Linked DNA regions of Homo sapiens: region 1 is linked to region 2. Evidence: fine-mapped QTL for protein levels in blood plasma. A gene starts in region 2. The other region holds a variant in brackets. All regions are shown on one strand. Distances are between the middles of the regions.

The links. PIP is the chance, under the fine-mapping model, that this variant and not a neighbour inherited with it causes the effect. Protein levels are from antibody-based Olink assays in UK Biobank. Linkage for the fine-mapping came from a reference panel and not from the study's own genotypes, which makes the PIPs less certain.
Region 1: its variant is fine-mapped to the plasma level of the NFASC protein (UK Biobank, PIP 0.99).

Annotation. Positions count from the first base shown.
Region 1 is chr1:204,980,858-204,983,760 of GRCh38, forward strand. NFASC (neurofascin) reads left to right here. Exons shown (of 30, transcript NM_001005388.3): 21 at 941-1,163. Among named protein-coding and RNA genes, the nearest start is that of CNTN2, 61 kb to the right of the region's middle. The variant CT/C (reference allele first, on the strand shown) is at 1,199.
Region 2 is chr1:204,827,090-204,829,992 of GRCh38, forward strand. NFASC (neurofascin) reads left to right here and starts at 1,563. Exons shown (of 30, transcript NM_001005388.3): 1 at 1,563-1,693.

The DNA.
Region 1 (2,903 bases), 150 kb after region 2:
CAACATCTGAGATGTGTCCAGTACAGGCTTTCTTTTGGTCCAAGAATGGACTAGGTCATTCCAAAGACTCCCTCTGGTCTTAGAAAATCCCATCTTCATGCTGGCTCACTGACTACATTTTCCAAACCAAAACTGGAGTATGTGGTCTCAAAATGACTTTTTTCCCAAACCACTTCCCAGTCTGAGAATGCAAACGCAGCCACTGAAATATTAACATTTCTGAGCTTCTGCCATGAGTAATGGAAACTGGGAGATGCAGTGTTTGGGATCATGACCTTCCCTGTCTTTCTGAAGGCTGCTCCCACAGCAGCCTTGGCCAAACAGGGCAACGGCAGCTGGGCTGAGCCCAGATTCAGGACCCTGGTCTGTGGCTCTGTATAGCAGGCTCCAAGAGGACTGATTCCTGGGCCAGGCCCTTAGAAAATAAAGAGCAGAATCACACCCATGTTTAAAGAACTCTGACCTCTTGGGAAGGACAGGACAGACACACACAAATTCGGTAGAACTAAAGTCCATTCTGGAATTTTGAGTTCATTAGCAGGAGCCATGCTGTGGTTAACCACAACTCATTTCTTCTGACTTTGGAGAAGTTTACCTTTTGTCTATATTTTGCTTTATTGGTTGCTCCTGTCACAGGAAGGAGTTTTGTTGAAAATAAAACCTTTGCACCTACAAATGCGGGTGGCTCTCAGAGTCAGAGTAACTGGGTCTCAGGCGAAGCCTGTGTCACAGAAAATCTGCATGCTGCTGGGTTCACAGGACCTTGGGCTTTTGGGGGACTCACTGGGGTGGGGGATATGGTCTTCCCTACCCTGCAAGGGGGCAGGCCAGTGTTGGGCACATCTGGAAGGGATGCCTGGCACAGCAAGAGAGGGCAAGCTGTGGGTGGATCTGGGCCCCTCTCTGGCAGCCTCTCCAGCCTGTCTGTCCCTCTGCCCAGCCCATGAATGCCACCTCGGCCTTTGGCCCCAACCTGCGCTACATTGTCAAGTGGAGGCGGAGAGAGACTCGAGAGGCCTGGAACAACGTCACAGTGTGGGGCTCTCGCTACGTGGTGGGGCAGACCCCAGTCTACGTGCCCTATGAGATCCGAGTCCAGGCTGAAAATGACTTCGGGAAGGGCCCTGAGCCAGAGTCCGTCATCGGTTACTCCGGAGAAGATTGTGAGTAGTCTCCTCCCCGTCCCCCCATCAGGACC[CT/C]TGTGGCTAGGTCGCACGAGGCCACGCTCACAGGCCAGGAACCTTGGGGTGGGTATGGGAGGACAGCCAGTTCCCAGGAAGGAAAAATGTTCTGTAGTGACCTAGAGCAGACAGGCACCCAGTAATGTCAGGAGTGGAAATATCATCCGAACGTAGTTGGAATTACTGAATGTCATCACCCAGTCCAGAATTCTCATTTCACAGATGTGAAAACTGAGGCCCAAAAAGGGAAAACCCTCGGCAGTGTTCCATAGTCATCAATGTCAGTCTTGAGAACAGAGCCCAGGTCTTCCGATCCCCTGGCAGTCTGCCTTACTGCTAAGCCATACTAGTACCAAGAAAAAACATCAGGACTACCCATCCTAAAGAGCTATAATTAGACACTTCTGTAGGAAGCAGGGCAGCTGGCCAGAGGTTCCCCCGGGGAAGCCTTGAGGGATCAGGAGGCCTCCTCAGCAACCAGACAGGAGCACCCCAGACCAGCCCCTCCTGGTGCTCCCGCTGCGGCTCCCAGCCCTGGGAACTGAGCACAGAAAGAGAAGGTCTTTGGGGGCTGGCCCCTGGTAAAACAACAAGATTCTGGTCATATACATGGACATATATGCCTGGCTTCCCAGACGGTGGTGGCCTCTCTGTCCCCAGCACATCAATCCTGTAGGCTGCTAAACAAAGCAGGGGTGTCGGGGAGTCCCCTCCTGGTTGAGGGCCTTTGCGCCCTGTTGAGTCTGGGTCTGATCGGAGAAGTGATCATGTAGGTGGATGGAGTGGGCAGAAGGAAGGGAGGAGGGACAGTCTTGAGTGGGGGAACTTAGAAGGAGCAGTCAAGAGTACGGCCAGTGGCATTCCTAACAGTGAGATGGAGGAAGGGAGGGCTGGGCCCTGGGCCCCACTTTCCCAGAGGTGATTATGGATTGGACTCACAAGGGAGATGAGCAGAGAGGGTCAGCAGGTCCTCTGTCCATCCCACTCCTCACCTCCATGGTGGTGGGCACTTCAGACAGGAGCCCGATGGGACCACTGGATGGTAAGTGCAGAAAGGGTGGCATCTGGTCATGGATTTTATGGACCAGCCCACAGTTTCCATTGCACGCTTCTACCCTGCGGCCCACGCTCTGATGGATTAGAAGGGACGAGGCAGAGCTGCTTTTGCGGCAGAGTGGAGAAAACAGGGACAAGAATCAGTTATGGGGGAGGGAGGGGCCTTCCCTTTCCAGGTAGTCGCAGGGTCAGAATCACTTCCTGAACTAGATTAGGGCATCTTCAACCTGTGGGTAATGTTTCCTGCCAGGAAACAGATGCATTCTCAAAAGGAACTATTTATAACGTGTGGAGAGAGTTGGAGGGAAAACGGCAAGATACGTGATCCACCTTAAAGGCTGGCAGCAGCAGGAAGCCATTATGCCACTCTGAGCCTCCATGGACGGGGATAGATGAGTCCACAGCAAGCAAGGACCGCCCTTAGGAGCCATGGCCTTAGGTAGAAGAGTACAAGGCTGTCAACCTGTAGCCCAGCAAAGAGGAACCCAGGGGAATTGATACCCACCCTTCCTCTTCTCCTGCCCTGGGGCCTCCTGTTGGCACCTGCTATTGGTTAAACCCATCTGGAAGCCTGAGAACAAGGGAACCCCGCTGATAAGGTCCAGCGAGGGCAGCCCCCCAGGAGACGGAGCAGGGTGAGGAAGGGTGGAGGACAAAACGAAGGGG
Region 2 (2,903 bases):
ACACAGCAGCAGAACAGCCTGCAAGGTGCGTAGGCTCTTCTTAGTCCCCAGAGTCCATCACCAGCAGGGGGTGCCTCTCCCTCCATCAGGACTTGCCTGCAGCTCTGGGACACCACCGAGGCCAAGGAAACACCTTCACCCTCAGGGCCTCTGGGGGTCACCATGCTCCCTTTAGGCCCACACTTAATTTCTTTATACTAAGGCCATGAAACTTGAGTCCCAGTTCAGTTTCAACCACCAAACCACTGTGTGGGGTCCATCTCTCTAGACCTTCGTGTATTTGCTGTTTAAAAGTAATGAAGAAAGGGGAGGGAAGGCTGAACAATAATTAACATTTGTAAAGAACAGTTTGGTTCAGTACCTTATCTCATTGATGCTCACTCTATGCCCATTTTACAGATGGGAAAAAGAAGACTTAGAGAGGTTAAGTGAACTGCCCAAGTTTACCCTGCTGGTAAGCCAGGACTTTCTTGGCAAATCCTGTGATCCTTCAACTTGACCATATTAGAAGATTCTAGTATTGGTGAAATCTAAAACTTGTAGGGCCCATCTTAAAATAGCAAAGTAGTTTTAACTAGGCACTGTCAGATGCATCTGGGCTTTGAATTATTACTTGGGCAGGTTCCTTGAACTTTGGTGTTCTCATCCAGAATAAAAGACAGTGGTGCCAGGGTAGGAGCTATGAGCACAGAGAAAGTAGCCCTTGAATGGGGCCACAGAGGGATGCTGCAGGGGACTGTAGTTTTGGATGAGGAGCTGAACTAGAAGCTTCCAAGTGCTCTTCCAAGACAAAGATTCTATGATTCCCTAACTGGGATCTTTCCACTGTTTCAGGTGATAATTCTGAGCTCAGATCCTGTGCACAGAACCTAATGCAGTCTTCGTGTCAGAGCTAGAAGAGACCTTGGGCGACCACCCAATCAACTTTTCATGGTTCAGTTGTGGAAACTGATGTCCACAGATAAATGTCTTGCTATCATGTCAGATAGTTCTCCAGCCACGACTGAGGCCTGAGTCCCCCTAGGGCAGAGGAAATCTCCCATTTCTAAAAGAAAGCCCCGCACTGTTCATAGCAGTCACAACCTCTCTCACATCCCTGAATCAGGATCCAACGACTTGCCAATCAACAAATGTTGCTGGAGAGTTTACCACAAACAAGTCTCTGTGCTAGGCCCTGAGAACACAAGCTGTCCGGCAACTTCCTGCTCCCTAAAGTCACAGTCTATGGTGGAGGTGCAAACAAGCGATCCTGTTGGGGCTTCAGGGTACTTCCTCCTGTGTGCTTTGCACGTAGTAGGTGCTCAGCGAACGGAAACGGGGAGACTAGTTATCACTCTCCAGGCAAGCCCGCAAAGAGGCCTCAGGTGAAAAGAGAAAGGAGGATTTTTTTTTCCGGCCCTGGCTCTGCGCACCGCTCCCCAGCGCGCCAGGCGGGGCTGCGTCCGGAGCATCCTTCCCTCCGCCTCTGTCCTGGTCCCCGCTCAGCGGCCGCTAGGAGCGCGAAGGGAGGGGCGCGGGGGCGCGCACGCAGGGTGTCGGGGGCGCGCCGGCCGCCCGGGGACGCGCACGGGCTGGTCTCTGCCCTAATGCGGCGGCTGGCGGCGAGAGGCGCTGCAGGGGACGCGGGGGAAGTGGCGGCGCCGGCAGCGGACAGCTCGGACAGCGCCCAGGGCCGGAGCCCGAGCCCTTGGAGGTAGGCGAGCGCGAACACCGGAGAGATGGGGGTAGAGAGTCATGGAAACCCACCTAGCGACACCCCCTTGTTCCCGCCCTCGTCTGTCTCCATCCCCTGACCTGCCCCCTCCCCCTCCGTCCACATTCCCATCCCTTCCCCTCTCCACACTGTCACCTGCCCCGAATCCATCCGATTCTGTTCGTATGCCCACCCCGTCCCCGTCCAGCTCCCAGCCCCCTGCCCACCCCAACACCCTTTCTATCTCGTTGGCCGCGTCCCCTCCCCCTTCCCGCATCCTCAACCCTTTCCCTTTCCTCTCTGTCCCCGCCTCATCCGTGAGCCCTGCCTGCCCTTGTACTTCTGTTTACCTCGACACCCCACTTTGGATGACCCCATGCCTCCTGTATTTCCTACCGCACACATCAGCCCCTTCTTGCCTCCCCTATTCTCTTCCCCATCTCATGCCCCTACCAGTTGGTGTCCTGTCTCTCCATTTGCTCCCTCAGTTTCTGTCCTCCCCTGGTTCCCCCTTGCACGCCCTGTCCCAGCCCCTTCCCAGCTGCCTCTTGGTGTCCTCCTGCATCACAGTCCCTCTCAAGAACCCCGCCTTCTCCCCCCTTTGGCTGTTAGCTGGCCTGACACCCGTCACCTTCCCTAGCTGCCCTTCCTGGTGCTGTGTGGAGCCATACAGCCTGTACCCAGCCCTCCCTCAGTGGCCTCTGGACCCCCCTTCCCTGGGTGGGGATCTTGGTTGTGGAATATAACCCCTTTCTGCATGTTCGATCCTATTTGTGGCTTGGGGAAGAATGCTGGGGGTTAGTAGGCCTCTCTCTTATGTTCCTCTCCAGCCATGCAGCCACTCTACTCCTCTAGCTGTTCAGGTTTGTTTCCTAGATGGATTGGGGGAGGGGGTGCTAGGCATTGGGAAACTAGGATGGGGAAGGGGCAGGGTCCAGGGGAATGACTGAGCAGACTCCTCCTGGGGCTTGGCCTGAGCCCTGATGTAAAGGCCTGGATGAGGAGCCCTGCTGGAGGGCTGGATAATTTTGGATTTTAGAAAAGATTCTGCTTCAGCCTCCAAGTCAGCACTTTGGCATCTGGAGCTGTCATGAGTGTGGCCCATGGGCTGGGCCAAGAGTGGGCAGAGTGCTGAATCACCTAGAATCTGGTCCCCATGGCAGCCCCCATCCTGTCCTGAGCCAGGTTCTGCTCCTGACTCCTTCCTTGG